Linked DNA regions of Homo sapiens: region 2 is linked to region 1. Evidence: fine-mapped expression QTL. A gene starts in region 1. The other region holds a variant in brackets. All regions are shown on one strand. Distances are from middle to middle.

The links. PIP is the estimated chance that this variant, and not a neighbour inherited with it, causes the effect.
Region 2: its variant is the best candidate, but not a certain one, in a credible set for the expression of EMG1 in lymphoblastoid cells (GEUVADIS, PIP 0.77).

What each region holds. Positions count from the first base shown.
Region 1 is chr12:6,969,373-6,972,280 of GRCh38, reverse strand. EMG1 (EMG1 N1-specific pseudouridine methyltransferase) reads right to left here and starts at 1,368. Exons shown (of 6, transcript NM_006331.8): 1 at 1,190-1,368. The coding sequence starts at 1,357. PHB2 (prohibitin 2) reads left to right here and starts at 1,617. Exons shown (of 10, transcript NM_001144831.2): 1 at 1,617-1,864; 2 at 2,001-2,085; 3 at 2,704-2,783. The coding sequence starts at 1,738. RefSeq lists enhancers at 1,061-1,180, 1,231-1,410, 1,501-1,570, 1,091-1,693.
Region 2 is chr12:7,022,291-7,025,198 of GRCh38, reverse strand. No RefSeq gene overlaps it. Among named protein-coding and RNA genes, the nearest start is that of LPCAT3, 5.3 kb to the right of the region's middle. The variant G/A (reference allele first, on the strand shown) is at 1,489.

The DNA of each region.
Region 1 (2,908 bases):
TAATACAGTTTCAACCCATTAGTAGGATATAATCATGTTTTCTATTCTTTTAATAGATTACAGGCGCAGGCCTGTAATCCCAGCTACTCTGGAGGCTGAGGCAGGAGAATCGATTGAACCCGGGAGGCGGAGGCTGCAGTGAGCCAAGATCGTGCCACTGCACTCCAGCCTGGTAGAGACTGAGACTCCATCTCAAAAAAAAAAAAAAAAAAAAGTGTATTTAGAACGAAGATTAAAATCCTGGCCTGACTTCTAAACCAATGCGATTTCTTCTGGGCCTATTCAATTAGTTCTAACGGGTAAGAGAAAGGAGGAGGAAGAACACTGCCCAAGGCTTTAAGATAGAGAACTGCTGGTTCTATTACATGTGGGGAAAGAGATGAATGATAGATAAAAATGCAGATGTAAAAGTTTTAAATAATAACCAGGTCTGGACAGTGTATCATAGGTGGATATTAGAGAGAGGTGACTATGGATACTAATGAATTGAAACACGAAGCCCTTACAAAAAGTGTGGGCAGACTAGGCTACATAACTACGTTTCTCATCTGCCCAGTAACTTGTCTTGGGATGTGGAATGACGCAAGGAACGAAACTTTCCTCTGCTTAGACTACTATACCACAGAATCCTGGTAAACCAATTGGAAGCAAGGAGGTGAGGGCTAGAATATCATTCAAAAAGAGCAAAAGAAAATGAGTACTACCGGCCGGGCACAGTGGCTCACGCCTCTAATCCCAACACTTTGGGAGGCCGAGGCGGGCGGATCACTTGAGGTCAGGAGTTCGAGACCAGCGTGGCCAACATGGTGAAACCCCATCTGAACTAAAAATACAAAAAAATTAGCCGGGCGTGGTGGCACCTGCCTGTAGTCCCAGCTACTCCAGAGGCTGAGTCAGGAGAACTGTTTGAAGGCGGGAGGCAGAAGTTGCAGTGAGCCGAGGTCGCGCAACTGCACTCCAGCCTGGGCGACAGAGCGAGACTCCGTCTCAAAAAAAAAAAAAAAAAGAAAGAAAAATGAGTACTACCATCCCAGGATGTCAAATCAACGCAAAGCCAACCAAGCCACCTTCCTTCAAAAGCATCTTTCACCCCTCTCTGCTTTCTACATCCACTCTGGGCCCCTTACCCTCATTCCACGGAGTCCCAACCTATCGATTTACTACTTCTCCACTTCCTGTCCCAAACTACCTTGACTGTCTCCAGACTGGCCCCTTCCAGCACCACAATAAGCCTACGGCCTCCGATCTTGTTTCCTGCCCCTAGTCGGGGCCGCTTGGGTGGCAGAGCATCCCAGTCCTGTGCCTGCTCCCCACCGCTTCGTTCACGAGGCTTGAATCCATCACTGGGCGCGGCCATCTTGCAACAATACCGGAAGTTGCGCTAACGCTCTTAAATAAGAACAGCGCGGCTTCTAATCACAAATTTCCTTCCGGCTGCCATTTTGAAAGTGGGCCAGGAAATGGAGATGACTTGCTGTCTTGCGCTGCCCTCCCTGGGAGGGCAGCCTTCCAGAAAGGGGCGGGACTTCCGTATGCGCGATTCCTGTGCGCGAAGTTCGGGTCCGTAGTGGGCTAAGGGGGAGGGTTTCAAAGGGAGCGCACTTCCGCTGCCCTTTCTTTCGCCAGCCTTACGGGCCCGAACCCTCGTGTGAAGGGTGCAGTACCTAAGCCGGAGCGGGGTAGAGGCGGGCCGGCACCCCCTTCTGACCTCCAGTGCCGCCGGCCTCAAGATCAGACATGGCCCAGAACTTGAAGGACTTGGCGGGACGGCTGCCCGCCGGGCCCCGGGGCATGGGCACGGCCCTGAAGCTGTTGCTGGGGGCCGGCGCCGTGGCCTACGGTGTGCGCGAATCTGTGTTCACCGGTGAGCAACCTCCGCCTGCTCGCCGGACGCTTCCAGTCCCTCCCCCAAACCCCTTGCCCTGTCCCCGCGCCCCTCCACGGGCCTAGCATTTCCTCTGAGCAGCGGCCTGGCCTGATCACCACCCATCTCCCCACAGTGGAAGGCGGGCACAGAGCCATCTTCTTCAATCGGATCGGTGGAGTGCAGCAGGACACTATCCTGGCCGAGGGCCTTCACTTCAGGTAATGGCGGGCAGAGCCTGCTGACCCTGACCTTTCACCCTTGACGCCGACCCAGCAGTGGCTATAGTCGGACGTGCAACAGGATTCAACGCTGCTCTTTTCCCACCCTCCTCATCCCTGCCCCTAGGATAGTGGGTGCTGCGAGAACCTCCAGCAGCATACAAACTGTTGTTTTCCAGAGGGACAAGAGAATCTCTCCTTGTCTGTGGTCGTGGAGAGGAGCAGGCCAAAAAACGCGTGGTGAGGGGAAACCGGGCAAGGCTAGTGAAACTGCGGCCTTTTCTTTTTTTTTTTTTGGAGAGGGAGTCTTGCTCTGTCGCCCAGGCTGGAGTGCAGTGGCGCGATCTCGGCTCACTGCAACCTCCGCCTCCTGATTTCAAGCGATTCTCCTGCCTCAGCCTCACGAGTAGCTGGGATTACAGGCGCCCGCCACCACGCCCGGCTAATTTTTGTATTTTAGTAGAGACGGGGTTTCACTATGTAGATCAAGCTGGTCTCGAACTCCTGACCTCAAATGATCCGCCCGCCTCGGCCTCCCAAAGTGCTGGGATTACAGGCGTGAGCCACCGCGCCCGGCCGAAACTGTGGCCTCTTAATACCTATCCCTGTCCTCTCCAGGATCCCTTGGTTCCAGTACCCCATTATCTATGACATTCGGGCCAGACCTCGAAAAATCTCCTCCCCTACAGGCTCCAAAGGTAGGTCTGAGCACTTGGTAATCACATGGCAGGTGGGATGATCAAGGTAGCTGGCAAGAAACCCCAGGGGAATATGGTAGTGTCAGGCCTTTAGGCCTCTTTCCACATCTGCAAGAGCTGTAACA
Region 2 (2,908 bases), 53 kb before region 1:
GTGACCTGGAAGCCCTCTCCCTGCTTTGAGCTATCCCCACGTTTCTGGACAGAACCAATGTACTTCTTATATATATTGGTTCTCATGTCTCCCTAAGATGTATAAAACCAAGCTGTGCCCTGACCACGTTGGGCACATGTCGTCAGGACTTCCTGAGGCTGTGTCACGGGTGCGCATCCTCAACCTTAGCAAAATAAATTTTCTAAATTAACTGAGACCATCTCAGATATGTGGGGTTCACACAGCCATGCCCAGCTGTTTTGTTTTTTTGTTTTTTGAGACGGAGTCTCACTCTGTCGCCCAGGCTGGAGTGCAATGGTGCGATCTCGGCTCACTGCAACCACCGCCTCCCGGATTCAAACAATTCTCCTGCCTCAGCCTCCCAAGTAGCTGGGACTACAGGTGACTGCCATCATGCCCGGCTAGTTTTGTTTTTGTTTTTGTTTTTTTGTATTTTTGTAGAGAAGGGGTTTCACCATGTTGGCCAGGCTGGTCTTGAACTCCTGACCTCAGGTGATCCACCCAACTCGGCCCCCCAAAGTGCCAATTACAGGCATGAGCCACTACACCCAGCCCTGTTTTGTTCTTTTAATTTTTGTAGAGAGAGGGTCTCACTATGCTCCCCAGGCTACTCTTGAACTCATGGCCTCAAGCTATTCTCCAACTGGACTTCACAAAGTGCTGGGATAACAAGCATCACCCTCCATGCCCAGCTACAAATTTATCTCTTACAATAATGGTGAAAGATATGTCTTCCGGATCCTTCCAGTGTGGGTGAATAGTTCTTAAATGACAATTCCTCTAAATTTTCAATCTTCCTAAGCCTTTGAGTATCTTCCTCTACATTAAACCAAGGCAGGTTTGGAATTTCTGATTTACTCATTATGACCCACCTTTGGTCCATGTCTCAGCCAAATAGCTAGACAAATTGTTAGAGCTCTTCCTAACTCTCTGAGCTGCAACATTAAATGTAGAACCTCTATTTAGTAAGCCCATATAAATTTGGCCAGATCTAGTTTTATGTTCCTTCCACCATTATCCCATGCCTTCAATATCCATTCCCATACGTGTTCCCAAAATTTCTGTCTGTATAAATTAGACATCTTAAGCCGTTCTTTTGGAGTGTTGCACACTTCCTCATGGGTCACACTTTGTCCCTCACCTTAGGGGCCTGCTGGGATTTCAGTCTAGTTACAGGTCTAGAAGCAAAGAGGGCAGGTGGGGAAGGGTCCTGAGGAGCATCTGCTTTGTCCTGCATGGCAACTTCCTCAGGGAGGCCATTACAGTTTCGTAGGCAATGCAGGGTTAGTCCTCTCAGGTGGGATGCCTCCACTGGGGATGGGGAGGCCTCTTTCACTAGCAAAGAAGATCAATCAGAATTTAGGGGCTCAATGTCCCCAGCTTCATCAGGTGATGAGGTTCATAAATCTAAAAAAGAGAGCTTTATTTCTCATAAAGGGTTGCAGCCTGCAGGGTGGCCATTCTGAC[G/A]GGAGGGGAAGCACAGCCTCCAGCCACAAACCAGAAACAGATACTTCAAGGGAGGGCCAAAGGGAAGAGAAATTTATGCTGAGTGGGGTGGCCAAATGTACGTATTTAGTACATTATAGGAGTGATGAGTTTTATGAAAGGAGAAACATACTCATGTGCAATTGAGCTTCATGCTTCTCCACGGGCCCCATGTTCAAAAAATGGTGGCATTAAGATGATCTAAGGTAGAGTTTTTGGCCCTCTGGCATCAAAAGGTGAAGCAGAGAACATGAAAACCCTCACTGCATTCTCTGTAGACTGGTCAGAACCACTTCATATTCAAGAGTCTCTTATCAGGCATAAAAGGAGGAGCAATATCAGACAGTTGGTTGATATCACTGGTAGAGTCTTTTGAAAGGGCTAGTTTCTGTTTAGCCCTTAGGTTAGAAAGCCTAAACCGGTTAGGGAGGGAGGGGTGAGCATAAGGAGGCGTGCCTGACCTCATCCCATCATGACCAAGAACTCAGTTTTCAAGGTTACTCTGGGGTCTGCTTTGCCAGGAGAGGGTCCATTAGGTCAGTTAGTGGGGGCTTCGAATTTTACTTTTAGTTTACAAGGGTATAGCCTAGTACTCCTTGGCTAAAAACTTGCACAGCATGTTATTATAATGAATATTGTGAGCAATAATAATACAATTGTAATAACTATTTGTGTGTATCTAAACACATCTAAACATAGAAAAGGTACAGTACAAATATGGTATAAAAGATTAAAAAGGCTGGGCACGGTGGCTCATGCCTATAATCCCAGCACTTTGGGAGACCAAGGCAGGTGGATCACCTGAGGTCGGGAGTTCAAGACAAGCCTGAACAACATGGAGAAACCGTCTCTACTAAAAATACAAAATTAGCCAGGCGTGGTGGCACAGGCCTGTAATCCCAGCTACTTGGGAGGCTGAGGCAGGAGAATCACTTGAACCCGGGAGGTGGAGGTTGCAGTGAGCTGAGATCGTGCCATTGCACTCCAGCCTGGGCAACAAGAGCAAAACTCCATCTCAATAAAAATTTAAAAAAATTTAAAAATTTAAAAATGGTACAGCCGTATAGGCCATTTACCTGAATGGAGCTTGCAGGACTCGCAGTTGTTCTGGGTTAGTCAGTGAGTGTGAAGAGTGTGAGAGTGAATGTGAAGGCCTAGGACACTGCCATACACTACCATATGTAATTGCCCTGTGGGCTTCTTCCTGCCCGCTGCACAGACAAAATCAATTCACTGAGACCATGGCATTGCATTAGAGAAAGATCTTAATTGATGCAAGGCTGACCATGCCACATGGTACATGAAGCTATTACTCAAATCAATCTCCCTGAAAATTTGGAGGCTAGGATTTTTCAAAGACAGTTTGGTGGGCAGGGGCCTACGGTATAAGTGCTGCTGCTTT